Linked DNA regions of Homo sapiens: regions 2, 3, 4, 5, 6 and 7 are each reported to be linked to region 1. Evidence: microRNA targets listed by miRTarBase, many of them from high-throughput screens and not tested one by one. Region 1 holds a microRNA gene; each other region holds the end of a gene's coding sequence.
Evidence for each region. The annotated mature microRNA hsa-miR-650 reads AGGAGGCAGCGCUCUCAGGAC and lies in region 1 at 2,849-2,869, shown strand. An mRNA with a match to its seed (bases 2 to 7 or 8) in the 3' UTR can be bound and repressed. Matches are read on the target gene's strand: a 7mer-m8 pairs with bases 2 to 8, a 7mer-A1 pairs with bases 2 to 7 and ends in A, and an 8mer does both.

Region 1 (4,622 bases):
GTTCATTTAGGGTGATGTGATCAGGATGGACTGGTGTTTTGGTGACTCAGCTGTGACTTGGGAAAATAGGGCCTGCATGGAAGATCAGACTGAGGTAGACATCCACAGTTGTCTCTGGATTTCCATAGGTGGTGACAGGCCAGTCCTTGCCCCAAATGTCCTAGATCAGTCCCCAGAACTGCCCAGCTCAGGCTCCTGTGGTAGCCTGTCATTCTTTAGAGAAACACCAATGGAGTAGACACTGTGGGATCTGCCCAGATCCCCTGTTCTGAGCTTACCCACTAAGCACTACTGGGAGCTTCTGGCAGGTCAGAGCTGTGTCCTCACTGTAAAGTGCTGTTCGGTGCAGAAAACAGACTCCTCCAGGTCTATGCCCTTTCTCAGTGAGGTTAGATTTCATGACTGCCTGAGGCCGAGTTCTCGACTCTGCCTCAATATAGGAAGACCTGAAAATCCTCCCAGCTCCACAGCTCTCTGTAGGAAAGACTTGAGACCTCAATGAGGGTCAGGGTCTCCTGCCCAGGGTTGCCTCCCTCACCTCCTTTCACATCCTCTGTGCATGCAATTCCTCATCTCAGAGTCTGCTTCCAGGGAACCCAATTAAGATCACCAGCCATCCCCAACATGGGCCATGTGGGACTTCAGGAGGCCACTGTATGCTGGAAAGCACCTGTTTATTCCTAAATTAGCACTGTGAGTATCCACACGCCCAATGAGATCTGAGTGTTTCTTGCATTTGCATGGAATGAGAAGGGAGCCTGACTCGCCAGGTGCTCTGGGGTCTAAGGGAGAGTTGGAGTCAGATCTCCCTGCAGGGAAACCTGGGGCAGGAGGAGCAGCCTTACCCCATGCAGGGACCACAGATGCACCCACAGGGTGAGCTTAAGTATGGACACTGCCTACCTCCACCCTCCACATCCTGTGTAAAAAATCATTCTTTCCACCCCTCCTCCAGCCTATCAAAGTTGACACTTAAAAAGCCACCACAACCCACCCTTGTCAACAGGAAACCCATTCACATCTCCATCAGCCACACAATCTCCACATAAAGATTCTTCAAAAAATAATAACAATAGCCATGCAAAGTATATGATATATATCATAAATAATTGTACTTAGATTATATATGAAAATGATACTCTTTTTGATATGCTAGGTAAATAAAATACATTATTTAAACTCATTGACTTCTTCTCTTTGTATTTATAACATGATGACTAGACAGTGGGATTCCCATGAGGCTCACATCACATTGTGATTGAACAAGGCTGGTCTGCAGGGCTTCAGGTTACAGGGGCTGTGGAGTGACCTGGTGCAGGAAGCCCCGTCTCCATCCATAGGACATCAGTGTGAACCCAGGGAGAGGCGCTGGTATAAGAGAGATGAGAACACAGGTGTGAACCACCTGCTTGTGCAGGGGACTGAGCCTTCACTTTGAGCCAAATAAGTTTTCTTTCCCAAGTTCGATCCTGAACAAGAGGGCTTTCTGGACTTCTTTTTGTTTTCAGGTTTGTGCCCCTTCAGGTTTGGGGCTGTCTGGAGTCCCAGCCAGGGGACAGTGAGGAAATCCAGCAGTCTCACACTGACTCTGTTGTATTTCATCTGCTGGGGCCATCCCAAACTGCTGCGTACCATTTCCTTTCCTGGTGCTCAAATAGCTGCTCCATGCACTTGTCATGGTTTTATAGCTCAATCTAGATGGGAAGACAGGATAGTGTATGTTACAATATTTAAATAGAACCTGAATCCCTTAATAGTTATTTTAATATGGAACATTAAAAGAGTTGCATCATAGGCAATGGGGAAAGATGAAGAAAGATTAAACGCATTTGGAGGAAAAACTAAAAATGTCTTTATTGAATGTCTGTGTGTCTTCAGTGTCGAAGGGTTGAGAGAGGTCAGCTTTAGGTTGTCCTGAGGATGTGCTCAGATGGGGGAAAGTAAGAAAGCCGGAAACGTGCATCTCTGTGACCTGACACATAAATCACAGTAAAATGGAAGTAAATCTTTCAATAAACCTTTCAAGATAACATCACTCTGGTGCACATAGAAAGGCCTGTTAGCAAACTTTCCCTTTTCCCTGCTGGCTCATATCCCCATGGATCACCTGTATGCAGAACGGACTCTGTGGTCTCCATTTATCAGGCTGAGAACCAGAGGCTGGGAAGGACAAGTCACCTGCTCATGAGTGGGAGGGGCAGGATTGGGAGCAGCGGACTCAGGCTCAGGACTGTGGCCCTGGTTGGTGCTCCTTGTTCCCTTCACAGGGTCCCACCCACATGTGCCCGTGTGGATGTGGGTGCACTGCCTGGGGTGGCTGATGTGCTCCAGGGATTTGATGGTGCAGATGCTTCAGGACAAAGCATGGGAGTGGGGATGGGACGAGGCTGCCGCTGGGCAGACCAGGGACCAACGCCACCCAGCAGAGGCTTCCAGTGGGGTTGGGCAGCCCCATTTCCTGAGAATAGAGAGAACCTGGCAATGAGTGCCAGAAAGAGGTTACTTCGAGGTGTGCCCAGGCCTGGAGGGTCACAGAGACACAGGCACCACACAGCAGAGACACTGAGGGCCAAGAGCTCACTCAGGTGAGGGGCTTCAGCAGATTTTTCTCTCCTGAGCAAATCACGTGCAAAGAAATCAACTTCCTGTCATCAGAATAGACAATCAGGGACTTTAGTCTCCTTGGCTGAGCCCCGCTGTCAAGGGAAGCAGAAGTCTCTAAGCCCAGGCCCAAGTGAGGGTGGGGTGAGAAGAGGAGCTCAGGATGCAGATTTGCATGGAGGTCCCGCCCTTCTCTGAGGCAGAGGGGATAAGACAGGGCTGGGGGCAGGCCCAGTGCTGGGGTCTCAGGAGGCAGCGCTCTCAGGACGTCACCACCATGGCCTGGGCTCTGCTCCTCCTCACCCTCCTCACTCAGGGCACAGGTGATGCCTCCAGGGAAGGGGCCACAGGGACCTCTGGGCTGATCCTTGGTCTCCTGCTCCTCAGGCTCACCTGGGCCCAGCACTGACTCACTAGACTGTGTTTCTCCCTTTCCAGGGTCCTGGGCCCAGTCTGCCCTGACTCAGCCTCCCTCCGCGTCCGGGTCTCCTGGACAGTCAGTCACCATCTCCTGCACTGGAACCAGCAGTGACGTTGGTGGTTATAACTATGTCTCCTGGTACCAACAGCACCCAGGCAAAGCCCCCAAACTCATGATTTATGAGGTCAGTAAGCGGCCCTCAGGGGTCCCTGATCGCTTCTCTGGCTCCAAGTCTGGCAACACGGCCTCCCTGACCGTCTCTGGGCTCCAGGCTGAGGATGAGGCTGATTATTACTGCAGCTCATATGCAGGCAGCAACAATTTCCACAGTGTTTTAAGTCAATGAGGAAGTAAGATCAAAACCTGCCCTGGGCTCTCAGGCCCCCTTCTTGCTCTGCAGATGCTTCCTCACGCTGTATAAGGGTTTCCTGCAGGATGGCCTTGACAATTCTCCTCTCTCAGCTCCTCTCCTTTCCCACCATGAGGTCTAAAAGGAAACCTGCTCGTGATTTCTCGTTCAGGACTGTGGCAACTTCCTTTTGCTTGTGTGCTCTGGTCCCTTAACGTGCAACTATTCCTAGCTCTTCAATGCAGGGACGTAGGGACAAGGAGTTTACTGCTTGGTGCAGTCCCTCCTGTTTTCAGGAACATCCTCATTCTAAATGCATCCCCCATCTGTCACACTATGCAGATCAATCTGGACAGAAGCCATCAGGGGGATGGCTTCCAGTTTCCAGGAATTGCATCTTGTTCCACTCTGTGTCCACCACGCTCTAATGAAGATGGCCCTCCTAGCTTAAAGTGACCACTTTAAGAAGACTTGAAGATGTTTTTGAGGGATTAAGAACAAAGAGGATGCTGCTGTTTTTCTTTTTATTGCTCCTGCTCTTTGCCGAAATTCCTCAGGTTGCTGAGCTGGGGAGATTTTGAGTGACAGGCTCAGTGCTCTCGCAGAATTCTCCTCCCCTCACATCGCTGAGGCCCTGTCCTGGAAACTCCTCACAAGTGGACGGTCTTCCCATAGGATGGGGGATTCCAAAATGGCTCCACAGGAAAGAGTTAACCTGAGTCCACCTCCCTTCCTCATGGACATCGAGCATTTCTAATTTTCATGGCTGTCAATACTTTTGTACCTGGAATCCCTAATAATCTAATGGTGAGAATTGATTTAGAACACATTCGGACATTAGCTGGGTCCAATATTTAAATTTTCTGAGCCAGTTGTTAAATACAGCTATTATCATATATAGTTTAGGCTCCTTAAACTTCGATTATACAGATTATATTTAAAACAAAGTAACTAGTTTACTATATATATTTACAAAGTAACTACTATATAACATCATGTTGTGTACCTGAAATATAAACACTAAAATTTATTTCAAAAACCAAAGTGTATTGTCTATTGATGCATAAAAAAACACTCACAAAACTTAGCACACTAAGAGAACACATGTCTGTGACCTTGTGACTTGGATGCACCTAGAATTGGGAGTAGCTTAGTTTGGTCATTCTCGCTCCTGGTTAATCACGAGGTTGCAGCCAAGCTGTCAGGCCAGGCTGCATTCAGGCTACATCTGCCAAAGAGGTTAGGAACTGT
Region 2 (4,622 bases), not on the chromosome of region 1:
GGCTTGGGGGAGGCAGGGTGTGATGCAGGCATGTCCCCTTGTGGAGACATAGTGGGCAGTAGCTGTTTTCCCAAGTGCTGCTGCCCTCCGGTTCCTACCGGTTCCCTTGGTGGCAGCCCCAAATTCGTGGTTCGTGTTTGATCAGTGTCTGTTTTCCCACCACGTGTCTGGTCATTCTTGGGTCTCTGCCCCTTGTCTGGCACCGGGCAGACAGGAACTTGGGAAATACTGTTGGCTGGCGGGTGGGTTAGCCAGGATGGCTGCAGCAGGGCTTCTGAGGAGCTCGCTACTGAGTCAGGTCCTTCATTTCCTACCTTATTCATCCTGGAACCCCGCGGTGACTTTGATGTTATTACCCCTCCCGCCAGCGAGGCCCTGAGGTCCCAGAAAGTACGTGAAGTGACCGGCTGGGTTTCTTGGCCTCCTACCCCACTCATGCCACAGCGTCTTAGGAGGGCTGTTGAATTTTGCAGCAAACACGTTGGCCAAAGAAGTCTCCCCTGATGGCATTGGTCTCTGTTTCAGATCATCACTGCCCTGGAGGAGGATGGCACGGCCCAGAAGATGCAGCTGGGCTATCGGCTCCAGCAGATTGCAGCTGCTGTGGAAAACAAGGTCACAGATCTATAGGAACCCAGGAGCCACGGCCTGCTGTTGCTTCAGCCTGGCCTGGGCAGCCCTGGAAGCTCGGAGGAGAGGCCACCTTCTTAGGTGCCTGTAGTGACTGACAAGCAGAGTTAGTGGAAGGTGACTCCCAGTCTCCTGGTGGCTCTGGCCTCGGCCCTGCTGGATCCACCTCCTAGACCCGGGGCCTCAAGGCTCATGGGGTAGTACCCAGCCTGCTCCCCGAGTCCAGCGACCCTGTGACACCGGTCTGCAGGGAGTTGGGGACTAAGGGCTTCCAGAGAGTGGCTGGAAGAGACTCCAGGCCCCTGGGGAGACTGTACTGTTCCTGAACACTGGCCTTGGCCACACTGGGATTCGGAGAGGAAGGAGGAGAGCCCCATGCTTCCTGTCTGCCTCCTCCACCATCCCTGACCTCAGTTGAGCTGCCTCTGGCCTTGTTGCTGCTGCCACATCCTAGGTCTAAGAGTTGAACGCCTCTCCTAGGCCACTACAAACTGACCCCTCAGCAGGGCTGGCTGCCACAGGGCTGCCCTGCCTCATAGGTAGCCATGGTGAGGGCTATCTGCTGCAGGGGGGTCTTGGGGAGAGTGGTGACTCCATTGACCCAGCTTTTCATTAAAGGATAACACACTGCACTGAGTCTGATGTGTGAGCCCGGCCTAGCCCCTGGCTACTAGGAGGACGGCAGCTATGCCCAGCAGGTACCAGGGGGAGGTGGTATCTATACTCTTGGGGAGTCTCATGGTTCCCCATCATATCCCAGACTGCAGGGCTGGCTGAGGCTCTCCTTGACGCCTGGGCAGGGTCTGGTGGGGTCAAAGCTTCCGTGAAGGAAGAACCCCATCTGGGGCAGGGCGGGTGACCGAGATAGAGGGGTCTACAGTCTCTTCAAGGGGGCCTGCTTTATCTGCAGTTTGCGTATTCTCACTTCTCCACTCATGTTCTATTTATCTTGAAAGGGACTAGGAAAGGATGACATAATTACAGGCAACTCTAGGCAGAGGGGGTCTCGAGGGCCATTTTCCATGGTCCTGTTCCTGGACTTAGGGTTTCTGTGTTGCCTTCCAAATCAGGGCATCCTAGGGCCGGCTCCTAAACTGTCTGCCTCCATGAAGGCCGCCTTATATGGTTCTTCCTGATTTGTACCTGGAGGTGAGCTTGGAGACTGTCTTATCTGGTCTCATGTTGCTAGTTGGGTCTGTAGGGCAGGGGGTTGATACTCCTCTTGACTTGAGACCACCCTCGGCCTTAGCAGAAGGCCAGCCCCCCATGGAACAGAAGAGATAGGGTGGCAGCTCTGCCTGGCAGATGAGAGGAAGGCCCTTCAGCCTTGAGGCCTTCAGAGGGATCATCCCTTTGGCCCTCTGCTTATCCTCCATAACCCAGTGACCCTTAGCATTTCCTCTCGTCTGGCACAGAGACCACAACCTCCCCTCGAGGTCTTCATTGAGTGTTTAGAGAGAGACAGACTGATAGAATTCCAGGAGGACTCCTATCCCCTGCCTTTTTTTGGCCCTAAATAAAGCCATCCACTGTAGGGTTGCCCCTACAATCCACAAAGTCCTTGTCCCTAAGGAGCCATGTTGGTCTTGTCTGTGCCGGGGGTAGTCATAGCTGCTATTCTTCGCTGTGGCTCCATTGTCCCTTCTTTCCCATTTCTGCCGGATGTGGGGACCACAGTCAGGTCAGCAGCCAGGTGCCATCATTTGGGAGCATGTGAGCTTGGATGCTCTGGCCAGGTTTTCATAGCCACCCAGAATGGTCCTGACTTTTCCCGTTGGAGACCATGGAATGGGTCTCCATCTTGACCATCTCTGGGAGCAGGGTGGATGGGAAATCCACTTGAGGGTGGACTTCAAGCAGACACAGAGGGAAGCAGCCTTGGTCAGCACCACAGACCTCGACAGAGCCATGCCTCTGTTCCAGAGGCCTCTCTGTTCCAGGTTCAGGCCCCTGCAGGTTTTAGGGGTAGGTGAAGGCTCCCGGGAGAGGGGGGCCATGTGCCTGCAAGCCTGGGCACGTGCCCGCGGGAGGGGTGAGTACTGAACGTGCTTTGAGTCACTCACTGAGTCATGGCTCAGCCGCCACAGAACATTGTTATAATAACAGACATAGAGAAGAAAAACCTGGCACAAGAAGATAGGAAATTCTGTCTTCACTCCAAACCATGACCAAGAATGGAGATTCCAACACCAGCAAGAATTTGTGATCGCTTAACTTGGGTCATGACCACAATTTCAGCATAGAACATTTGTAATTCAGTTTGATCAATCTTTTCCTAATTTTTATTAAGACTGCAACGAAAGTGTGCCCTCATTATTACATTTTTCACAAACCTGTTAGCATACAAAGGGCCTTTGTTTCTCATTACCACCCGGGGCTCCTTAAGGCGTTTTATGGAGTGATGTGCTTTATTAAAAAGCGTTTTCACCAACTTAAAAGTTGGAATAATTGTCCAAATGGTTACATGACCCAGGAGTTCTATATTTTTATTAATTTTCTGATACTGAAATAATCGTGCTAATTAAGATAACAGCTGAATTTATGCTGATGAATGTTGGAATTCTTAGAAGCCACCTGAAACCTTCCAAATGGTCAGGACCTGGATCCCACTGGCCAGTGCCAACAGGTGACTCTGGGTGGTGCTGGGGGATACAGGGAACCTAGCTGTGTTCTGCTTGGCACCAATGGCTGCTGATGCATGTGTTTCCTCCACCAGGTTCCCTAAGGATGCCACATTGAAGAACAAATACACCCCAAACTACCTAGGTCAGCTGACTGGCGATGTTTTATGGATCTCTCTTTAAAAGTGTTCTGTCGGCCAGGCGCAGTGGCTCACCCCTGTAATCCCAACACTTTGGGAGGCCGAGGCAGGCGGATCATCTGAGGTCAGGAGTTTGAGACCAGCCTGCCCAACATGGCAAAACCCCGTCTCTTCTAAAAATACAAAAAATTAGCCAGGTGTGGTGGCGGGCGCCTCTCATCCCAGCTACTCAGGAGGCTGAGACAGGAGAATCGCTTGAACCCGGGAGGCGGAGGTTGCACTGAGTCGAGATCGCGCCACTGCACTCCAGCCTGGGTGACGAGCAAAACTCCATCTCAAAAAAAAAAAAAAAAAAGTGTTCTCTGTCTTAATTAAGGATGATGGTTTATCCAATTCCAAATGTTTACCAAAAATCTAAGATAAGGATATCACCATGATGTTTGAAAGAGAATTTATGCCCTGGTTGTGATGTTGGGGTTTTATTGATAAGAGTTTCAGTTATCTGGATGATATGTGCACGTGTAAGGAAACAGAATGGTTTGCCAGTTGTCCAGGTGGCCATGAAGAGAACCTCTGGAGGTCTAGGAATGTGAAGCTCAGATTTTGGAAACCTGGTCCGGTGTCCTGGGCCACAGGTAAGTGGCTGAAGCTGGTGGTTTGCTGCCATCTTCTGGCCATAGTGTGGAATTTATCAGAAGCAGCTACCAATGAGGGTGTCTGGAGCTCTATAAATTGCAAGCCTGGGCAAGATAGCCAGACCCCATCTTTACGAAAACTGTTTAAAAATTAGCTGGGCATGGTAGCACACATCTGTAGTCTCAGCTATTTAAGAGGTTGAGGTGGGAGGATTGCTGGACTCCAGGAGTTTGAGGCTGCAGTGAAAGATTATGCCACTCCACTCCAGACTGGGTGACAGTGAGACCCTGTCTCTTCAAAAAAAGAGAGAGAGAAATCACAACAGTGGAATTCAGTAGTGCTGGAGCTTAGTGAGTAATCTTACCCTGTCTTTAACGTGAATTCTGGTTTTAGGGTGAGCTATGTCTTAGGACATAGTTGAGATAACAGTGAGTGACTAGTCAAGAAAACAGCCGGGCACAGTGGCTCACACCTGTAATCCCAGCACTTTGGGAGGCCAAGGTGGGTGGATCACTTGAGGTCAGGAGTTCGAGACCACCCTGATCAACATGGTGAAACCCCATCTCTACTGAAAATACAGAAATTAGCCGGGTGT
Region 3 (4,622 bases), not on the chromosome of region 1:
ACAAAACAAAAACCTCATCTTGCCTAAAAACTCCCGAGTTGCTCACCATCCTTAGGCTGAGGCTCCAAGGCCGTCCACGATGTGGAAAGAGCCCTCTTCCTTGGCTGCCACCATCCCAGACTCCCTTTAGTTCTTTGCATGGAACTACCCTCTCCCCCAATTAAGGGCTTTGCATGTGCTGTTCCTCCTGCCTAGAGAGCTCCTCTCCCCACCTTCACACAGCCAATCCTCATCATTAATTTGCACGTGTAAATATCCCCTGGGGAGCCCTTCCCTGGCCCGTCCCATCGGCTCTGGCAGCACTCATATTTCCCTCTTTGTAACATTCATAAGACTTGTCATTTTCTTCTCAGATTTCCCTGCTAGACACAGGCTTTATGAAGGTACGTCTGTCTTGTTCACTGGTTGCTCCCTGGCACCTGGCACCTGGCACTAGGTGGCCTTAGTCAATACTGAGTGAATAAATGAATGAGTGAAAGGGGTTTAGGGGAAAGGCCCTGACTCTGTACGTGATCTGCAGATGTTCAGGCTCTTTGTTTTAACACCTGAAGATTTGAGGGTTGGACTAGGTGAGCTCTGATGTTTGTCATCTTTGTAGGCTTCACCCTCTGCCTGTCCCTTTTGCTCCTGGATGATGGTGGGTTGTATGGTGGGGCTTGAGATTAACGGGAGAGGCTGTGGATGAAGGGAGTTAAAGGTCACTGCTACTTAGTTAGCAGCAGGACGGAGTATACCTAAAGCAATCTAGCCAATTCTTTCAGTTCCAAAATCCAGATTCCAACAGCCATCAGAACAACACAGCCCTGTACTTGGCCGTGCAAGATCTCCCAGCTATTATGTCATGACAGCCAGCCCAGCCCAGAGCTGTCTCTGAAAGTCTAGGATATAGCCTTGCTCGGCCAATGAGTTCTGCCTGGGAAGTTAACTAATGATAGTAGTTCTCATTTGCTCAATATTAGTGCTGCAAAGTGATCTCCAGACCCCAGCCCGGATCCTATCTTCAAAGCAGGCACAAGTTCTAGAGAGTTCTGTGAGGCTGGCCATGATGGATGTTGGAGTTGCCCACATTCCCCTCAGTTGGTGCATAGTCAAGGAGGTGGAATACTTCCCTAGAGAAACACCAGGGGTCACCCCCATGGGAATGCCACTTTATTCGAAGCTCTAGCATCAATATTGGGTCATCTCAGTTGGGGAGTACCCAGTGCCAGGCTCTGCCTGCCAGATATACACCTGAAAGGTGGAGGACCAAGGCCTGTTTGTGGCGTTTCCTGCCACAGAATTCGGATTTGTATCTTTCTGCAGATTCCAAAGGCATAGTTAATTTTACAAAATTAAGTCTGCATTAGCAAGGCTTTGGGCATGTTCAAACCCATTCATGCAGTTTAATGAACACAAAAGCAACCTGCTGTTACAGCCTGCAGCCCACGTTAAGTTTGGGTGGACTGCCTCATTGCGTAAAACCTGGGGGAGTGGGAGAAGTCTCCTCTGGAGCTGTTATCTTGCCGGCAATTTGATGCCTTCAGCACGGAGGTTCAAATCTGGACTTCGGTTCCAAGTAGCAGTTGCTTAAATTAAGTATAAATCAGCAGTGCCGTGCGTTAGTAGCGTGGTTGGATGCATTCACTGCTGAGTGACCACGAACTCCACTGCACTGATGCAAGGTGGAAAACCTGAGCCAGAGCCACACACAGGGCTGGGCTGGGCGGCTCTGCCCCGTGACAGTCAGCTGAAGGGAGTGATTATACTTGCCACATCACCTCCGTTCACTGTCCACCGAACAGCTCTCCCCCAATTAGGGCTTTGCATATGCTCTAACACTGCAGCTCCCAGGCAGGAACTGGTTAGAGGGTAAGAGATCTGGGACTTGCTAAGAGCTTCATTATTTTCACAGATGCTCAGGACTTTATCCTGAAATTGGCAGGGGGTGGTGGTTCATGCCTGTAATACCAGCACTTTGGGGGGCCGAGGAGTTCAAGACCAGCCTGGCCAACATAGTGAAACCCCGTCTCTATTAAAAATACAAAAAATTAGCTGGGCGTGGTGGCAGGCCCCTGTAATCCCAGCTACTCGGGAGGCTGAGGCAGGAGAATGGCTTGAACCCAGGAGGTGGAGGTTGCAGTGAGCCAAGATCGCACCGCTGCACTCCAGCCTGGGTGACAGAGCGAGACTCCATCTCAAAAAAAAAGACTTTATCCTGAAATCAAAAGTTGTACTGCCAAATAGAATGGCTACACGTTACATCTATTTGAACGCATCATTGCAGCAAATCTATGCTCTCTAAAAGCGACTGGAAGACATGAGTTCTCATATGAGGGTGAGAAGAACACGGGCTCAGACAGTGCGTACTCACTCCCATGACCGTCGGAGTTAAAATGAGGGGGTGACAGTGCTGCAGCTATTCCAGGACCGGTGCTATTTATAGGAGCCTGTTCCAAACCTTAACCCACAGATACCAAATCCACTGAGCACTGTATGCAAAGGGAAACAAGAAACCGCTCTGCCAGGTCTGGTCCCTCGTAAACTCCCCAGATGACAAGCAAGTTATTTAATATGTTCTTTCTATGTTTGGAATGAATCTGTTTCCAAGAATAAAAGCATACAAACAATATCTTTATTACCTGTAATATACTTAAAGAGCAGGGGTCCCCAGTTGGTTAAACATTGAAAACAGTGGGAGAGCTTCAGAATAGAGAAAAATGACTGTGCCTCACCCCTCACTTACTGAGTCAGAATCTGCAGAGAGGGAAGTGCTGAGAGATGTCTTTTTAAAAAGCTCTCCAACTCTCCAGGTGCTTCTGTCCACCAGCCAGATTTGGGCACCGGTGCTGCCCAGCATGCCCCAGGCTTCAGGGTATGGGAGTCGCCCTGGGCTTGGGTCAGGCTGGGGCTCTCTCATTCACCAGGTGTGGGGAGGGGCTTGAGCCTGCATTTCCAGCAAATTCCCAGGTGGGGCTGAGGTTGCTGATCTGCAGTGCTCCATCTCTGGGTGTGTACCTACACACCCGTCACCTTTGTTGTACTGGGCTCAGGTATAAGTTGCAGGGTGCACCGTGTATCCCCGTAGCCCTGCCCTACTCCATGCTGCCCCCAGTCTCAAGTGGTGCTTGAACTTGCCTTCACCAAGGCAGTTCTCGTCTCAGAGTTGAACCCTCCCTGAGGGCCCCCAACAGCCCTCTCCAGGCCTTGTATCAGTAGGAAATGAAAATGCATTAATTGGGAGGGGTTTATCTGGGGTCAAAGGCTCAGGGAGATCATTCTTTTTATTGCCAAGGACCAAGAAACAAAGTGTAGAAATGCTATACACAATGGTCATGAGCTACAAGGTAGGAATGGGGTGCAGGGGAGACGTGGTAACACACAGCACTATTCTGAACGAACTCCAGCTCTCCATTCTAACACTTGAACCAAGGAAAGACAGCAGTCCTTTTTCACTAAGCCTGCAACAGAATGCAAATGTGACTTGGTTTATCAGCTCCCACAGGACAGGCAGCGCAAAAGGCTATTGTAAGCTGGTTTTGGGAGCCCCCATCTCAAACAGAGAGTGGATGCTGAAGGTGGTCCCTGGCCGCCACTGGTGGCTGGTCCCCGGCTTGCTAGGTCCTGGGCATGTCTCGATTCTCAATGATCAGCTTGTCAGTTGAATACAGTTGGCCAATGTGGACCTGAAGGCAAAGAAAGGACACAGGTCAGGAACCGTGGCCCTCTAGCCCCTGGGAAAGGCCAGAAGGAACATTTCCTAACATTTCTAATACAAACGTCGGCCATCCCAGGGCTGCTCCCTTCCGGCAACTGCACTGCGGGGCAAAGCCGGCCACTAGAGCACCATCCAACCCCCGTTTCCCTCACTGTGAGAAGTTACAGAGATCCACACACCCATTCCTCCCCTCTGAAACAGCACAGGAGGCTGCAGCCTGGGACTCGGGGCTGTGCTGAGCTGGGTGACGCCTGCCTGCTGGTGGCAGAGCTGTCAGATGTGTGCCCAGTACCTCCTCTCCTAAGAGGGCTTCCTTCCCTTAGAACTGATTCTCGCATAGGGAAGGGGTTTTAGAACAGTGCAGAAATGGGCGCCGTCTATGCTGGGGTAGGAAAAGCGCTGCATTCAGGGCAATGCAGACACCTGTCCGTGGCCCATCCCGGGTGGGGTCGAGGGCAGTTGTCTGAGTGCCTGCACCTCCTGCCTTCTATCTTTCCTGCCCCCTTCTTTTTAAAGTGTCCTTTTTATTAAGTGTCTTAATGCCCAATGTTTCCACTGTCCCAGGTGGATGCTGGAGCCATCCTCTGGGGCTAGAGCAGGTCTTTCCTCTGCAACAAAGGGTCTTGCCACAGTTTTTCTGTAAAGCATTTCCTGAGTGATACATTTTTAAGAACAAGTGGAATGGGTGAAGGAAGGGCTGATCATTAGCAACTCTATCTGGATTTCAGACCAGTTGGTCACTATCTATGGGTAATTCGGGGTGAGTAACTGCTGTTTAAGCAAACAGAGCAGCCAGGGGTCAACATCCTCATGGTTTTCCTCCCCGATCTTAGTGCTCTATTTCGAAGTGAAGGCCCCGGACAGAAGGCGATCATGTCATTACTACAGCATGTGTTAAAGAGCAGTGCTCTGTCACCAAGGACCGCCG
Region 4 (4,525 bases), not on the chromosome of region 1:
CGGGTCTTGGTGATCTTTTTATCTACCCTGGTGCCTGGCAAGCAACAAACAAATATCATCAGCAGAAAGCCAGGCTCAGCTGAGATCATGAGAGCCCAGGAAGCAGTTATATCAGGAGTAACAACCTGGGTCACAGCAGGCCCAGGACCCTGGAAGCTGAGCTCCCCTATATGGGAAAGGAAGAACTAAAGCCAAACTTCAAGTGCCCTTCCAGAGCCTGAGCTCATCACTGAGAACCTCTGTCTGTCCCTTCTCCTGCAAAGAGAAGGACACAGGTGGGAGAGGAGCATGGGGTGGGAACAAGGTCAGACATAGGCCTGTGGTGGTTTGATCTGTTCCATACCTAGGATGGGGACTGGAGCCTGCTCAGCTTTCACCTTCCAGCGTTACCTGGAGCAACCCTGTGGGGAGCTGTAGGCTGTCCCCATAGACTTCTGAGATGTCTTTCTTTCTCTCCATCTGCAGGAAGATGTCAGAGCCCCAGTCTTTTCCCTAGGAGAGGCTTCCCTAGATGGTGGGAGTCCTGGCCCAGGCCACTGTGGGTTTTACGAAGTTGAAGGTCCTGGTTCGGTGATGGCACAGGGGCACACATAATAACTTCCTGCCTTTCAGGGAGCACAGCTCAGCTCCACAGCAGGACACCTGAGCAGCCAGAAGCTAGAAAGATGCAAGCCTGCCTCCAAGTGGTCACATGTCATAACTGCAGCCCACAACCCAGACCCTCCAGGCAGAGGTGCCTGGGCAGCATTGACTATGGCAGGCCAGGCAGCCACCATCATCTGGCTCTGAAGATTCCACGTGCTCAGGTGAAAGAGAGGTGCCGGTTCTACATGAGCAAAGGAGCATCAAAGTGTCACACACACATGCATTCAGACTTTCACCTTTTATCATGGTTTTAGAAATAAGGATGCATAGGCCAGGTGTGGTGGTTCACGCCTGTAATCCCAGCACTTTGGGGGGCCGAGGCAGGCAGACTACCTGAGGTCAGGAGTTCGAGACCAGCCTAGCCAACATGACGAAACCCCATCTCTACTAAAAATACAAAAAATAGCCGGGCGTGGTGGCACACGCCTGTAATCCTAGCTACTTGGGAGGCTGAGGCAGGAGAATCGCTTGATTCAGTGGAGGTTGCAGTCAGCCAAGATCACACCATTGCACTCCAGCCTGGGTTACAAGAGCGAAACTCCGTCTCCAAAAAAAAAAAAAAAAAAAAAAAAAAAAAAGGATGCATGTTCAGTGAGGTCAAATAACCTACTCCACTTAGTTTGTAAGCATCAGTCTTGGGCCAAAAGTCATGTCCACTTGATGCTGGGATTCCACTTCAATCAAATGAGGCAATTGGACTCTACTGCAGCTAACTGCTACTTACACATCAGAATTACCCAAGGAGCTTTAAACATATTTATCTATCCCTCTGACCCAGGCTGACTGAATCAGCATCCCTGGGTGTGGGCTGGGAATGTGTCTTTTCAGCACACTTCCCCAGCAAGATAAAAGTGCCTCTGTAAACTGAGAGCAGGAAACCAGTGGGCAAGATTGTCAACTCATGGAGTCAGGGACATGTTTAATTCATTTGTGAATCCCCTGGTACTGGCACATAGAAAGCGTCCCATATTATCTGCAAAATGAATGAATGAATAAATGAGCAAGTAGGTGAATGAATGATTCTGAGGTCTCCTCCAGCTTTGATGGCCTATGACCGTGTGACTCCTGCATATGCATGAACACACAGACACAGACACTACACACATGCACAGACACACATACACACTTGGAGCAAAGAGGGATGAAGCCTGCCACACTGCAGGTGGTCCTAGCTGCCTGACCTCCCTTCCTCACACACTGACACACCTCCCTCTTTGTTGACCTGTTATTTATTGTGCACCCATTGGGTGCATGGCCTAGCCCTAGGCCCTGGCCGGAGACCCAAACATGGCCTCCAAGGGCCAACCTTACTTTGTGGAGGTGCAAGCCCCAGAGCTGGTTACAAGCATGGGAAGGGAGGAGGGTGGCCTAGCAGGAAGGCTGGGGAGGCAGTGTGTCAGCCGGCAGGCAGCAGCGGGTAGCAGAGGCCCCCTCTTGGCGGGCAGCCTACTTGCACACTTGGCTGAACAGAGACAATGGTGGCTGGTCCCTCCGGCCCAGCCTCCTTCCTACAGGCAGAGCCCCAAGTCCATGAGTCTCCGGAACCTCCCTCAGAGAACAAGCCCAGCTGGGAGGCAGCCAGAGGGCAGGATGAGGGGATTTCCCAGGGGAGAGCAGCAGAGACCCTCTGAGCTGCCAGAGATGGGGAAGGGGTCCAGGCACCCCACAGGAAGGAAGGTTTAAGGCATGTGTAGAAAGGAGCACAGAAAAGTCTCCCGAGCCTGGCCTAGGCCTCGCCTGGTCGCCAGCCTCCGTCCCATCCCTCACAACTCTCCTGAGCTGTGGCTCCTGCCAGGCAGACCCCTAAGGGAAACTGTCGCCACCTTTTACCTCTCTATCCTCTCCAGTGGTCTGAACATAGAGAACCTCCTTCTCTGCTCTGTTGGAACAAAGGCTCCTTGTTCCTAGGGTTCCAGGGTTCCCTGCAAAGCTCTGGAGGCCCCACCCCGCCCAGCCCTCACTCATGCCATCAGCTCTGCTCTGTTGATGAGCAGTTGGGTATGTGAGACTGTTTCATCTACTTCGGGGGAAAGGAGACACAAGGAGACAAAGGCACAGGGCCCCACAGCCGTGCAGAGCCCTTGAAGCCCCCCGAGGTCCCTGCCCAGAAGGCTGTCCCCTCAGTGGGCAGGACCTTAGCGACCCTGCTCCCTGGGTCACAGGAGGCTGGTTAGGAATTTCTCAAGAGTCCCTGATTCACTCTCCTGGGGCCTCCCCAGGAAGGTCACCTAATTCCCAGAGCAAGACCATCCTTGGGGCTGTGGCTCCCCTGGCTGGGCTGCCCAGGGGCCTCTGCTGCCCCAAGCTCTCCCCCAGAAGCCAAGGGCACACCACATAAGCACTGGTTCTCAAACAAGTGCTGAGTTCTCAGCAAGTCTAGGAAATGAGGCCACTCTGGATTCTGGGGCCTGGAGGGTGACATGGGCTGAGCTCTGGGAGGAAAGTCAAGTCCTCACCTCCCTCTTCCCTTGGGCGTGGCCAGGGACTGGGGCTGCGGAGGGACTGCCATGGGGGTGGTGGGGAGCACAGCAATATTAGGAAAGCTTCAGGGAGCACAAGAATGAGGGCCACAGGGAAACAAGGTTTGTCCTTCAGCAGGGAAAGGAGGTGCCTCATCCGTCATGGTGGACTCATTGAAATAAGTCTCCTCCAGGGAGGTTCATCTCAGGTCTACCCTGGAGCAGGGAACAGTGTCTCTGAGGTGGTGCTGGCTTCACAGCTGATTGCGGTTCCGCTTAGGGATGATCTTCCGGTAGGTTCTGCGCTCTGAGATGTTGCGCTTCACCTTGGCCGTGGTGGGAGCCTCATCCTGGTGCAGGGACGGGCTCGAGTGGGACTTCTTCAGGCTGAGCTTGGGCTCCCGAGTGCCTCCAGCTTCCCTCCCCAGCTGCTCCTCCCACAGGTCCAGAGCATCAGAGGGGCAGTGCAGGCGGGCCACCAGCAGCTGCACGTAGGTCTCGTAGCGGGTTTTCTGCAACACACAGGCCCCACCACCTTAGCACCATCCTGGCTCCAGGTTGGGAGGAGGCTAGAATCGTGAGGGACAGCTCACAGGTACATGAAGCTATGGCGATACAGACCTCGACAGAAAGAGGGCTGGACCAACCGTGAGTGTCAGTATAATGCTTGGATAAGCAGACTGCAGAGCACACCTCTGGATAGTATTATAATGACACATATCAGCCCAGCCCTGTTCTAATAATAACCAACCCCTTGGAGTGCTGTAACTAACATCTCTATGCCATGTTCCATCTTTGAGGCACTAAAAGATGTGTCACCCACTATGCCTGAGATCTTTGCAGCCCTACACACAAACAGCTCACATCTGTACAGCCCTAATTGGGTCTAAATAGCATTTTAACAATTGGCATCTGTGGAGCATGATGCTAACTACCCTCATCTACTTAACACTGTACTCCTGAGGCCCCTGCAGCTAGCATCCTTGGGATATGGTTTCCAGTTTACAAAGTGCTTCCTCACCCTCCATCCCATTGGATCCTCATGCCAGCCCTGGGAGGGGACAAATCATTGCGGAAGGGAGGGCTGGTGACTTGTTAAAGGTCCCAGCTGGTCAGTGGGAGGAAGAGGTTGGGTCCTCACAGCCACACCCTGAGGCCTCTGAGAAGTGGGGAGTTCACAGCCATGGATACAACCAACAAGCCAAGGGATAGCCTGGGACCTTGAAAGACAGGCAGAGGGCTGCATGCGGGCACAGCGGGGACAGGCAGGAGGCGATGTTGACTCCCACTTCCTGGTCTCTGCCTCTGGGTGGCCTCTGATTCCCTCTATTTTCACATTGCATTCACCTACCCTTCCTGCCCAGTGGGCCCTCACCCTAAGCAGGCACCCAGGATCCCTGAAGCAGGCACCCAGTGTTAGG
Region 5 (4,565 bases), not on the chromosome of region 1:
AAGCAGCAGAAGAAAAGTAGATGGAAAAATGAAACAAAACAAACTCAAGCTGAAAGAAGTCAAGAAACAGAAAAGGTGGGACAAAAAGCACAAAATAAGATGATACAAATAAATCTTAATATATCAGTAACTTTGACAAATGTAAATGGATTGAACTCCTTAGTTGACAAATGATCAGAAAGAAAGAAAAACATCCAGCCACACAGTTTTTTTTTTTTTTAAGACAGAGTCTCGCTCTGTAACCAAGGCTGGAGTGCAGTGGCGCAATCTCGGCTCACTGCAACCTCTGCCTCCTGGGCTCAAGCAATTCTCCTGCCTCAGCCTCCTGAGTAGCTGGGACTACAGGTGCACACCACCACGCCCAGCTAATTTTTGTATTTTTAGTAGAGATGGGATTTCACCATGTTGGCCAGGATGGTCTCAATCTCCTGACCTCGTGATCTGCCCGCCTCGCCCTCCCAAAGTGCTGGGATTACAGGCGTGAGCCACCGTCCCCGGCCCCAGTCACACAGTTTTTAAAGGGCATATCTAAAACATAACAGCAAGGTTTAACAGAAGGATGAAAAAAGATATATCCTATAAATCCAGCTAGCTGGCATAATCCATATAAATATAATATATAGTTTATGTATTTTTATATTTATGTATATATTTATAATTATTTATTTATAACAAGACTTCAAAATATATAAAAATATATAAAACTAAAATTGACAGAATTACAGGGAGAAATTGGTAAGTTCACTAGAATAGAAAATTTCAACACATCTCAGAGTCTGAGAGATCAAGTAGAAGACAAAAGAATAGTAAAATGGAAAAAATTTGAACTACAAAATTAACAACTTTGGTCTAATGGACATCCAACAACTAAAAAACAAGCATACTTTTCAAGCAATCATGAAACATTTACAAAAACAGGTTATAATCTAGGTCATAAAGCAAATCTCAACAAATATTAACAGATCAGTCTTAACATGTACCTATTTTCTGTCCACAATTCAAATTCAATTAAAACAGGAATCAATAAACACAGAATTTAAAAATATACACGCTAGGAAATGGGAAAAAAAAGCCTCATACATATGTTAGTCGAGAAAGAAATCATAATTAAAAATTAAAAATACATAGAACTTAACAAATCTTTCTATGGTGCTTTAAAATTATAAAACATTATTTCATTTGATCATTGCAATAATCCTATGAGCTACATAGAACCCACAATATCTCTGCTCAACAGCACAAACACAGCAGAAATGTTACAAACTGGCTAGGCACAGTGGCTCATGCCTGTAATCCCAGCACTTTGGGAGGCTGAAGTGGGCAGATCACTTGAGGTCAAGAGTTCGAGACCAGCCTGGCCAACATGGTGAAACCCCTTCTCTACTAAAAATATAAAAATTAGCTGGGCATGGTTGTACATGCCTGTAATATCAGCTACTCAGGAGGCTGAGGAACAAGAATTGCTTGAACCCAGGAGGCAAAGTTTGCAGTGAGCCGAGATCGCGCCACTGCACTCCAGCCTGGGTGACACAGTGAGACTCTGTCGCGCAAAAAAAAAAAAAAAAAAGGAAAGAAATGTTACAAATTATGTAGTTATTAAAATTGTTTTTTACATATAAATAAAATATATATAAAAAGTGATTTGGCAACTAGGAAACAGAAGCAAAAGCGTTCACCACTAAAAATATCAAAAGGAAGGTAAATAAACCAACTCTTATAGAAGCTATGTCGAATATCAAAAGGAAGGTAAATAAACCAACTCTTATAGAAGCTATGTTGAATAGTTAAAAATGTTACAAGAAACAATTGAGTATCTTAATGTCTAAAGCTCAAAAAGCCCATCAATTCATTTTGGTTTAGGAAGTCCCTTAGGTATTTATGGAATAATAAACAAACTTATAGGGTAAAGTATTTATTATTCACATGAGATGAACACAAACTATCAGAAATCTTTGCTATACAAGTTGGGTAGCCACAGTTAAGAATATATTCCCTTCACACACACAATCTTAATTTCTTGGTTACAGCATTCGTTCAATGATGTGTTGGCAATTAATCGCATTCCAAAAAGTGTCTACGGTACAAAGGGAATTTTCATTTAAGGCTCCCCTCCCTTTTCATGTGTGGGATATTTTTGGAAGTATTTCTTTTTCCATCCACTGAATTAAGAAAATTCCAACATGCCTTGGTGTCAGCAAGTGCGCTTTTTAGTCCAGGTACCAGCAAATGATTGATGAGCCTGTCAAGCCTACAGTAGCGGATAGAGAAAGTTGGCAGAAGTTCAGTGTTATTGAAAAAAATCTCAAATACTTATTTCATCTCCTCTATTAACTTTAATCACATTTTCAACATGCAGCCAAGAATGAAGCTTTGACAGTAAGCCATACATTTACACAGGCAGGCATTGTCAATTTTCTGCAGTCGCCACACTGAGATAACACAAGAGAGCTGGATATTTTCTTTCTTGTGCCTTTCTTTACTAAAGAGCAATAAAAAATATGTGAAAGATTTATCCATACCTCAAATTTGTTTACCATAAATCTCGAAATTATTGCATTTACTTTTGCTTGGTTTATGGCAAATAAAAAATCAACTTAGTTCTTCAGTTAGATTTTTTTTTTGTTGAGATGGAGTCTCACTCTGTCACCCAAGCTGGAGTGCAGTGGTGCCATCTCAGCTCACCGCAACCTCCGCCTCCTGAGTTCAGGTGATTCTCGTGCCTCAGACTCCTGAGTAGCTGGGATTACAAGCGTGCACCAACATGCCGGGCTAATTTTTGTATTTTTAGTAGAGACGGGGTTTCACCATGTTGGCCAGGCTAGGCTTGAACTCCTGACTTCAAATGATCCGCCTGCCTCGGCCTCCCAAAGTGTTGAGATTACAGGTGTGAGCCACTGCACCCAGCCTCAAATTAGACTGTTAAATGCAGGTTTTTAAAGATCACAGTGATGACAGAACTGGTACATGTTTCATCATAATATACCTGCTTATGAGAACAGACATTAACACTAAAAAGGATTTACATTTAACATGGACCATTTGCTGTGTGGGCAAACACTTCTGGTTCATTCAAAGCCAGGAACTTTATATGGTTCCAGAGGGACTCTCTGGCAGATTTTGTTGATTACTCATTAAACAGTCGAAACATGTATAGACATTATTTATCTTATAAAGCTTACCCACAGCAAAACAGACACAAAAATGAGGTAAATACTATGGGCAAGATTATAGCTCTTGGAAAAACTAAATGTCAAAATATATTTTTGGTAAGCTTTTCCTTCTAAGCATGCTTTAAAAAGCTGAAAATAGTAAGTGCTGGAAGGCCACAAAACTTAACATGTGTCTTCCCATCCACGGAAGCCCATGGCATTATGCTGCACTGTAAAATATGCAACGCTTCCCAAGAGGCAGCTCAAACACCAGCGTGGCCATCTTTGCCACAGCAGAGACAATGTGTTCACTCTCACCTCTCTGAAATGTGATCTCTGCTCCAAGGACAGCTGGCTTTTTTTTTTGTCTACATTACTCATGCAGTAACACTTTATACATCCTTCCAACAGCCAAGGAGGCTATGACAGGTAGCTTCTATACCTTCCCATTAAGCCACAATAATAAACTATTGTTAACCCTGTATAGAAATGAATGAAATTATCTTTCTAAGAAGTCTATACCTACAGTTCTCTGAGCTAATCAATGGAAAAGATGATCAATTCTGACTAACAAAGAGTATATTGATTCCATTTTCCTTCCTACTCCTCTTCATTCAAATAATCATATATAGGCACTTAAAGCTGGAAAAATGTGGCACCCTTCTTTAAATATCCAATCAGAATGCCAGTAGAAACTTCTTTCTTCTGATATAAGAGTGCCACTGAATATATTGCTAAGCTTGAAGCAGAGGCTAAACGGTCTGGTGGGAATAGTTTTCAGGAGAGAGGTGAACATCTTCTCATTAGTTTGTGATTGTTGTGGTTCAAGTTCTTAAAAGGTTGAAAATTTCGCTAGGTCCTTCTCCATCTCAGCATATTGTTCTTTAAGCCTTTCCATGGCTTTTCTGTGCTCTTCATCCACTTCAGCCCTTTTGTTGGGTTGCTCCTTCATGAAGTTGTCCCACTGGAGCATATGCTGTTTCTCACTAGCTACTAAGTGGTCACTATGAATCTGAGAAAAGAAAATTAGAAAGTCACACGACATTTTCCAGACAATTATTTCATAACGTTATCTCTTGATACTTGGTTACCGTAACAATCAGCTGGTAAGTCACAAGGAAAAAGTTGTGTTATAATATCCAAAAAAAGATGACACATTAGAAACATCTAAGGCTTCTCTCATTAAAATTAAACATGGATATTCTCATTTCTTAAATTTTAAAAGTGGGCTGGGCACAGTGGCTAATGCCTGTAATCCCAGCATTCTGGGAGGCCGAAGCCGGTGGATCACCTCAAGTAAGGAGTTTGAGACCAGCCTGGCCAACATGGCAAAACTCCGTCTCTACTAAAAATACAAAAATTAGCTGGGCGTGGTGGCACATGGCTGTAGTTCCAGCTACTCGGGAGGCTGAGGTG
Region 6 (4,000 bases), not on the chromosome of region 1:
GAGGCATGGGTGCAGTGAGTTGTTATGCCAGGAAAGGAGCACGATTAAGCCAGCGGTCTCCATTAGAGGCTGCTTGGCATCCTGGGATTGAAGCCAGGGGACTGACTCAAGTCTAATGTCTTATTCTCAGACAGTATTGATGCTAAAACCTTTTGAATACTGACGGAGGTAGGAATTTATCTTGTGAAGACCTCTAGGGATGGAAAGGTCCACACTGTCTCCTAGAAGCTCTTCCACATGTCCCTAGGCAGAGCTATTCCATAGTGTCTCCATTGTGTTTGCATTAGCACTTTGCCCTTTCCACCTAGATACCTGTCATGTCAAGAAACCATCACCTTCCTTAACAAAAGTAAAACCCAGAAACTCCACTGGGGTTTTTGCTGATTTTCTTTGCTGGCTGCCATCAAGATAGTCCCCAGCACAGTTGAAGGGCATCTAAAGACAGGCCTGACAGTTTAAGAAACTGACATTGAAGATTAGAGAATAGCAGAATATTATAGCTATTATGTAATATTAAATCCAGATGGCTGTTCTACAAGTTTAATGTGCTTAGAATTACCTCACAGAGCTTGGATCCATGAAGTCTGAGGAGGAACTTAGGAGTCTGTGGTCTGACTGAGGCAGTCCTGGGACCACTCTTTGAGAAGCGCAGCGCTGCAGAGATCATCTGCTTTATGAGGCACAGTGGGCTTGGGCACAACCCCCTCTTTCTTCATCTTACAGCCTGGATATTCACTTACCTGTTGATTGCAACTCTCAGCCATTAGAGTCATCTGGGGAAGTTGGAAACAAACTTGGCCCCTCTCCCAACCAATGAAATTGGGATCCATAGTGGGTAGGGCCCTTGCAGTGGTCACTTTTAAAGCTCCCGTGGTTCAAAGGTGCAGCCAGGATTGAGAAACACTGCGTTAGCATAGACTTTGCTCCCTATAAGATGCATCTTTGTTTGCTCTACCAGGCACTCTTAAGGCTCATCTTGGGTATTTATACTTCAGGGTAAATAGATTCAGAAAGGGAAACTTGATAACAAATTGAGAGGCTAAGGGCCTTGATACAACTCTCAGTTTGTCCACCTTTTGACCACTTAGTTGGTCTTGGTGTAGGTCTGGGGAAGGGTGTGAAGGACTGTGGAGTTCTGGAATAAGGGCTGCTTGCCTCTGACCGAGAGTCCAGAGGTTGCAATTCAGTGACCTCTGGGCTGCATCTGACCAGCAGGTACATTCTGTTTGGCCTGCAGTGTGGTCACAGGTGGCAGTTTTTAAAAATATGAATGCCAGCCTCTAAAAATCAGATATCCATAAGAGCATTCTCAGATCTGATGATATTTGATGGACGACTTGGTGCTAAGTCAATGAAAACTTATGAGTGTGGGTTCATTAATTCTCATTTAGCCAGGTTACCCCATTCATAAGAGTGATGACGGAAATGGAATATGATTTAGCAACATTTCCTTCTGATTCTATTAGAAGGCAATGGGTTTTGATACTCAAATTTTAGTTTCACCATTTTCACCTTTTGCTCCACATCAAGCCCTTCTAAGGCTGGGCTCGAATAACAGAATCTGGCTTGGGAAATAGCAGTCCTGGGTTTAGTTTTGGTTTTGCTGTGGGAGCCTAGGGCTCTTCCTGGTTCTGAGTGTCCTCATTTATGCAAAAACAAGATCAAATTATTTCCAAGGTTCTACTTACTGGGAATCCAAGACATGAATGGCACAAGAACAGAATGGAGACGCCTTGGCTGATGTCAGAGTGTAAGACGGTTAACAATGAAACCGGCCTGGAGAAGTCTGGGAGGCGTGAGAGGGAAGAGCTGGAACCAAGGGCAGAAGCTACAGTGAAACATTTAGGTCCTAACCGTCCACACTGGCCATAGATGGAAGGGTGATCTTGGGAGAGGGAGCGCTCCACCACTGGAGACGTCACACGGAGGCCAGGCAGCCACTAGGAGGGCATGTTGTGGGCAGCAAATGGTGGATGAGTCCCTTCTGACATGTAGAGGTAGGGGGGAGGAAGCAAGGAACTCCCTCATTCTACTTCCTCTCCTTCAAAGGGGAGTATGGCTCACTGTGATATGCTCTGCCCACAGAATGGGATGTCAGTGCTTGGTTGTTTTTAAACACTGTATTTTTAATTTTTCAAAAATACGACAGTAAAGGTCGTACTATGCACAGGGGGACTGATGCCTTTCATGTGTCCCCCTTGCATTTCTACCTCAAAACAAGACTAAGGCATAAATTACTCCACTGGGCGCCAGGCACGCCCCTTGTCCTTGGGGCATTATCACTGGTCATACCACTTGTCCTGGGGGCCGGCAGATGAGATATTTGCCACCAAGGCTGCACAGGCTCCGGGAGTCCTTGCACGTGCTTTATTCAGTGCATTCCAGAGGGGACCCCTCAACAGCGCTGGCCAAGCCCTTCCCTGTGCACTGGCGGGCATGAGGGAAGGATGGGAGGCAGTGTGTGTGTGTGTGTGTGTGTGTGTGTGTGTGTGTGTGTGTGTGTGTGTGTGTGTGTGTAGGGAGGGGGTGATACAGGGAGGGGAGGCTCCCTACCCCTACCCCTGCTGCCCAGCTGCAGCCAGGCCGGTGCGTCCATGTCTAGGGGCAGGCTGCAGCAAGAAGACGTGGGAATGCACAGCCCCAGGGATTGTGTCATCCACATGCTTCCCATGAGGTACCTGGGAACAAAAGTGACCCGGGAGGGTTGGCAGCTGAGAGCAAGGGGCTGCAGCTGGTGGGGGAATGTGTGAGTTGCGGTCAATGTGAATGCACGTGGGTGCAGAGCCCGGCTACCTCTCATCTCAGGACAGCGTCCAGTATCCTGGTCCCACTTGCCTGGCCATCAGTCTCCACATCTCAGAGTCTTTCTTCATCCCTGGCTTGCAGCTGTCACCATCAAGCCCTTGCTCTTGGGTTCATTCTTCGGGAGCCCCAGGGGCCTATCTATGGGGAAGGGAGTGGGTGTGACTTGGGAGCCAATGGAGGGGTGGGATGGGTGAGAGAAAAGGGCAGAATTCAGATCTGTTTTGTCTTGGATCCTTCTGGAACTAGAGGCCTGGAGTGTGCAGATTGGGTTCGTATTTACAGTCTTCCTCCCTGGGTTTCTCTGGAGGATGGGGATGATTACGAATTCCTAGCACCTTAGTAGCTGGGGCAGCAAATGCCCTCCACAGAGCCTGAGGGAGGCCTTGGCATGGGCCTGGGTGTGTGTAGGGGTGTCCCTTTAAATCCCTAGGGGTCTGTGTTAAAGGTGTCCCAGTCTCCCAGTAGGGCAGTTCCACTTAAAACCAGCTTGAGTTCCATTCTGGAGGGAGCAGGCGCCATTGCTCGGGAGATGAGGTCAAGTGCAAAGCCAGCTGGCTTCCTCTCCGCTCCAGCTCGGTGGGGCCACAGGCCTGGGTCTCAACACTACCTGGACTGGTGTCCTGGCCCCCATCAACTCAAAGTCTCCTCTGGAGCCTCACTCCAGCACTTTGGGGGTGGGGTCCAGACCAGGCTCCCTCCTGCGCCTGGCACTTCTAAAGAAGCCGAGCTGTGAGGAGGCAAAGGGAGACGTCTCAGAGGAGGACAGGGTGGGCAAGGCCTGCCCCAGCTTTCCCTCCACTACCTTTCCTTGGGATTCCTCCCTCAGGGCTTCCTTGAGTACCCCCAGCTCATTCTGAGCACCCCCTCCTCCAGAACTGCCTCTGTGGACTGGAACACAGTGGATGAGACCATGGGCTGCATGCAAGAAGTCATACTAGTGCCCATCTTGCTGTGTGACCAGCCCCAGCCAACATCCCTCTCTGGGCCTCCTTCATCTGTAACAGGAGGAGGCTGAGACCAGGGGTTTGTAACCAGAGCTTCAGAGACAGAGATGGACTTCGGGAGGTTTGTTAACAGCTTGACATTGTGGGAGAAATTTTGTGCAGTTGTTTGTACTTGCTTTTTTTTTTTTTCTCTAATAATAGGAACCTTAGTTTTCATCAGGTTCTCAAAGGCATCCACAAACAGGTTAGAG
Region 7 (4,622 bases), not on the chromosome of region 1:
ATACCACACATCTACAACCATCTGATCTTTGACAAACCTGACAAAAACAAGAAATAAGGAAAGGATTCCCTATTTAATAAATGGTGCTGGGAAAACTGGCTAGCCATATGTAGAAAGCTGAAACTGGATCCCTTTCTTACACCTTATACAAAAATTAATTCAAGATGGATTAATGACTTAAATGTTAGACCTAAAACCATAAAAATCCTAGAAGAAAACCTAGGCAATACCATTCAGGACATAGGCATGGGCAAGGACTTCATGTCTAAAACACCAAAAGCGATGGTAACAAAGGCCGAAATTGACAAATGGGATGTTATTAAGCTAAAGAGCTTCTGCACAGCAAAAGAAACTACCTTCAGAGTGAACAGGCAACCTACAGAATGGGAGAATACTCCTATTATTTCTGAAAAAACAAGGCTAGTGAACTTTAGCATAGACTATATTTCTAATATTGTGTTAAAGCCAGGTGCAGTGGTTCATGCCTGTAGTCTCAGCTACTCAAGAGGGTTGGGTGGGAGGATCCCTTGAGCCCTCGAGACCAGCCTGGGCAACATAGATAGACTCCCCCCACATCTCTATTAAAAAGATTATGTTAAAATAATAAGAATAATATGTTATGTAAAGACTAGGGCTTCCAGTGTCAAAGTACAAACCGCTGTCTATTTTTGCTTCTCTTCTAGGCACTGCCTCCTTACCTGTGAGGAATGCAAAATAAAGCATGGATTAAGTGAGAAGGGAGACTCTCAGCCTTCAGCTTCCTAAATTCTGTGTCTGTGACTTTCGAAGTTTTTTAAACCTCTGAATTTGTACACATTTAAAATTTCAAGTGTACTTTAAAATAAAATACTTCTAATGGAACAAAAACATTGTGTCTGTCACTCACTGAAATGTATTCCGTGGAAGGCTTTCAAGTGAACTAAGCGTTACATGTTTTTCTGCTCTTTAAGAACATGTCGGGGCATGGCGCAGTGGCTCATGCCTGTAATCCCAGTACTTTGGGAGGCCGAGGCAGGCAGATCATTTGAGGTCAGGAGTTCATGACCAGCTTGGCCAACATGGTGAAACCCCATCTCTGCTAAAAATATAAAAATTAGCCAGGCGTGGTGGCACATGCCTGTAATCCCAGCTACTGAGAGGGAGGCTGAGGCAGGAGAATCACTTGAACCCAGGAGGCGAAAGTTGCAGCGAGCAGAGATTGTGCCACTGCACTCCAGCCTGGGTGCCAGAGCTAGACTCCATCACACACACACACACACACACACACACACACACACACACACACACACACAACATGTTAGGAATCCTCACACACACACAAATGACATTGCACCCCCACCCCAACTTGCTTACAGCTAAATAAGAGAATTAAGTCTTCTCAGATTAGCCTCTATTCTTTCTTTTACTCTGCTTTTTTTTTCAGTGTTTTAAGTTATCTGATAGAGAATTGGAATTAATGTTGAAGAAGTTAGGAAGTCATGACCCCAAGAAAATTAATGTGTATGGAGATAGAAACAGGACAAGACTGACTTACAGGTATGAGAAGGGCTTCCTAAAATGTAGGGGCAACATTTTTAACTTAGTGAAAAGTGTTTTGTTGGAAAGGGTCAAAATATGAATCAACTATCCTTTCAGTGCTCCAGGTGACCTTATGGTTCAACAGTATGGTTCAACAGTGGAGTTTTGGAAGTGACCATTGTCTTTTTTTGTTTTTGTTTTTGTTTTTGTTTTGGTTTTTGTTTTGGTTTTTGTTTTGGTTTTTGTTTTTGTTTTGAGACAGGGTCTTGCTCTGTCACCCAGACTGGAGTGCAATGGCATGATCATAGCTCACTGCAGCTTCGACCTCCCAGGTTCAAGCCACCCTCCCACCTCACCCTCCCAAGTAGCTGGGATTACAGGTGTGTGCCATCATGCCCACTATTTTTGTAGTTTTTGTAGAGGGGGGGTTTTGCCATGTTTCCCAGACTGGTGTTGAACTCCTGAGCTCAAGCAATCCACCTACCTCTGCCTCCCAAAGTGCTAGAATTATAGGTGTGAGCCACCATGCCTGGCCTCTTTGTCTTTAGGTTATCTGCTTAGCAAATGGGCACATGCTTATGGGCAGCCCTCAAGAATGGGGTTCTTTCATATACTACTAGTGGCCTGAAACAAGAAACACAACTTCCCAAATTGTCTCTCATTTTCCCCAAGGAACAACTTATTTATGGGAGGAATCACTGGAATAATTAATACATGGAATGATAAATTTAGAATTCTAGGGAGTTCAGAGGCAGCCAATGCAACTCCAGGGGTTGGACTCCTATTCTCCTGTCAGATTTGTTGCATGAAAACAACAATAACAAAATCTGGCCAAGTGCAGTGGCTCACACCTGTAATCCTAACACTTTGGGAGGCCAAGGCGGGCAGATCACTGGAGGAGTTTGAGACCAGCCTGGCCAACATGGTAAAATGCTGTCTCTACTAAAAATACAAAAATTAATCGGGCATGGTGGTGCATGCCTGTAATCCCAGCTACTGGGGAGACTGAGGCACGAGAATCTCTTGAATTGGAGAGGTGGAGGTTGCAGTGAGCCAAGATAGTGCCACTGCACTCCACTCTGGGCAACAGAGTGAGACTCTGTCTAAAAAAAAAAAAAAAAATTAAGAAAGAAAGGAAAAAAAAAGAAACCCTTCCATGTGGGAACCTTTTGTTTTATGTATGACAGGTTGTCTGAGCCCTACAGAAAAACTACTCTTGCATCTTTGCAACTTCTCAGAAGAATGCTTTATATATGTATCATCATTTATATCAATATATAGGCAAGGTGCAGTGGCTCACACCTGTAATCCCAGCACTTTGGGAGGCTAAGGTAGGTAGATCACTTGAGGTCAGGAGTTTGAGACCAGCCTGGCCAATATGATGAAACCCCACCTCTACTAAAAATGCAAAAATAGCCCGGTGTGGTGGCACATGCCTGTAGTCGCAGGTACTCAGGAGGCTAAGGCAGGAGAATTGCTTGAACCCGGGAGATGGAAGTTGCAGCGAGCAGAGATTGTGCCACTGCACTCCAGCCTGGGTGACAGAGCGAGACTCTATCTCAAAAAAAAAATATATATATATATAGATAGATAGATAGATGATAGATAGATAGATAGATAGATACATAGATAGATACATAGATAGATAGATATATAAGAGGTTTGTGTATGTACACATTTGGGTTTTACTTAATACATCTTGAACATGTATCATGGAAGTTAAAAGAGAAACTTCATTAAAAGTTAATCGTTTACATGAAATATTTTATTTTAAACATCAAATTATACAGAAGTTTTAATTTTTACATGAACATTAAGAGTAAGCCTCTTTTTATATTACGTATGCTATTTTTTCAGTCCATAAAGTTTTATTTCTGTAAATCAGAATGCAAAGCCAATATCCTATCATCTTAAATGCAAGTTTAACTCTTGTCTCTGATAACTAGCAGTTGGTGACTCTTTGTTATCTCAGCTATTGGCAAAAATTCAGAATTGGGCACATTTATTTCCTACTCCCCAGAAAATGATTTCCTAGGGATCAGAACATTTCACATTGCTTAGCACAGCAAGTCAATGTAAAAAATCTATCCCAAGGTACTGGGGAAAGATACATTTATTTTATTTATTTTTATTTTTATTTTTATTTTTTTTTTATTTTTTTGAGACGGAGTCTTGCTCTGTCACCCAGGCTGGAGTGCAGTGGTGCGATCTCGGCCAACTGCCTCCCGGGTTCATGCCATTCTCCTACCTCAGCCTCTTAAGTAACTGGGACTATAGTCACCCGCCCCCAAGCCTGGCTAAGTTTTTGTATTTTTAGTAGAGATGGGGTTTCACCGTATTAGCCAGGATAGTCTCCATCTCCTGACCTCGTGATCCACCTGCCTCAGCCTCCCAAAGTGCTGGGCCACTGGGGTGAGCCACTGCACCTGGCCAATACATTTATTATTGTTGAAAGGAGCATTGTTTTTACAGATGACATCTTCATAGTTCTTCTCAATCAAATTGGGTTTATTGCTTGGGCTTTCTACATTTCCTACGTAGAGAAGTTATTCATTGAAGCAGTTTATCATGACGATCTATCTTAGAGTGAAAGAAAATCAATAAGGAAAAAACTGGAAGTTCATCCAAGAGGCTTTGATTATTCTGCTGCTATTTTTTTGGGTTTCTTGTTCGTTTGTTTTGTTTTGTTTTGCTTGTCTGTCGCCCAGGTGGACTTCAGTGGCACAATCTTGACTCACTGCAACCTCTGCCTCCCAGGTTCAAGTGATTCTCCTGTCTCAGACTCCTCAGTAGCTGAGATTACAGGCATGCACCACCACGGCTGGCTAAATTTTTGGCATTTTTAGTGGAGACAAGGTTTCACCATGTTGGCCAGGCTGGTCTCAAACTCCTGACCTCAAGGGTTCCACCTGCCTCAGCCTCCCAAAGTGCTAGGATTACAGGCATGAGGCACCGCACCCAGCTGCCTATCTATTGTACATATTAGAAAGCTAGTACCTGGGGGAGAATGTCTGTTTCTTGTGTTAAAGGAACAGCACCTGCCTTTTGACATTTCACCATTACCAACACTCATCACAAAGCTGGTCACAAGCTTATGAAAGCAG

Region 2: miRTarBase lists PLXNB1 as a target of hsa-miR-650. Seed matches in the 3' UTR shown: 7mer-m8 at 1,018-1,024.
Region 3: the mRNA of LYRM4 is a reported target of hsa-miR-650. The part of its 3' UTR that is shown has no 7-base or 8-base seed match.
Region 4: the mRNA of PSD4 is a reported target of hsa-miR-650. Seed matches in the 3' UTR shown: 7mer-A1 at 2,579-2,585, 7mer-m8 at 2,216-2,222 and 7mer-m8 at 2,030-2,036.
Region 5: the mRNA of BLOC1S5 is a reported target of hsa-miR-650. The part of its 3' UTR that is shown has no 7-base or 8-base seed match.
Region 6: miRTarBase lists ITGA11 as a target of hsa-miR-650. Seed matches in the 3' UTR shown: 7mer-m8 at 2,451-2,457.
Region 7: the mRNA of OCIAD2 is a reported target of hsa-miR-650. The part of its 3' UTR that is shown has no 7-base or 8-base seed match.

What each region holds. Positions count from the first base shown.
Region 1 is chr22:22,819,943-22,824,564 of GRCh38, forward strand. It overlaps MIR650 (microRNA 650), which reads left to right and starts at 2,834; the gene lies at 2,834-2,929. LOC105372948 (a long non-coding RNA gene) reads right to left here. Exons shown (of 4, transcript XR_938047.2): 4 at 1,039-1,694. It also overlaps IGL and IGLV2-8.
Region 2 is chr3:48,400,494-48,405,115 of GRCh38, reverse strand. PLXNB1 (plexin B1) reads left to right here. Exons shown (of 38, transcript NM_001130082.3): 38 at 526-1,262. The coding sequence ends at 630. Among named protein-coding and RNA genes, the nearest start is that of PLXNB1, 27 kb to the left of the region's middle.
Region 3 is chr6:5,105,830-5,110,451 of GRCh38, forward strand. LYRM4 (LYR motif containing 4) reads right to left here. Exons shown (of 3, transcript NM_020408.6): 3 at 2,590-3,662. The coding sequence ends at 3,594. The region is part of intron 3 of LYRM4-AS1 (LYRM4 antisense RNA 1); the gene reads left to right. Among named protein-coding and RNA genes, the nearest start is that of PPP1R3G, 23 kb to the left of the region's middle.
Region 4 is chr2:113,200,249-113,204,773 of GRCh38, reverse strand. It overlaps PSD4 (pleckstrin and Sec7 domain containing 4), which reads right to left. Exons shown (of 17, transcript NM_012455.3): 17 at 1-3,616. The coding sequence ends at 3,359. Among named protein-coding and RNA genes, the nearest start is that of PSD4, 29 kb to the right of the region's middle. RefSeq lists enhancers at 450-499, 840-889.
Region 5 is chr6:8,011,668-8,016,232 of GRCh38, forward strand. It overlaps BLOC1S5 (biogenesis of lysosomal organelles complex 1 subunit 5), which reads right to left. Exons shown (of 5, transcript NM_201280.3): 5 at 1,900-4,161. The coding sequence ends at 3,982. All of the region lies in intron 4 of BLOC1S5-TXNDC5 (BLOC1S5-TXNDC5 readthrough (NMD candidate)), which reads right to left. It overlaps EEF1E1-BLOC1S5 (EEF1E1-BLOC1S5 readthrough (NMD candidate)), which reads right to left. Exons shown (of 7, transcript NR_037618.1): 7 at 1,900-4,161. Among named protein-coding and RNA genes, the nearest start is that of BLOC1S5, 50 kb to the right of the region's middle. RefSeq lists a silencer at 384-592.
Region 6 is chr15:68,299,599-68,303,598 of GRCh38, forward strand. ITGA11 (integrin subunit alpha 11) reads right to left here. Exons shown (of 30, transcript NM_001004439.2): 30 at 1-3,532. The coding sequence ends at 3,461. Among named protein-coding and RNA genes, the nearest start is that of FEM1B, 24 kb to the left of the region's middle.
Region 7 is chr4:48,881,627-48,886,248 of GRCh38, reverse strand. It overlaps OCIAD2 (OCIA domain containing 2), which reads left to right. Exons shown (of 7, transcript NM_001014446.3): 7 at 684-1,230. The coding sequence ends at 765. Among named protein-coding and RNA genes, the nearest start is that of OCIAD2, 23 kb to the left of the region's middle.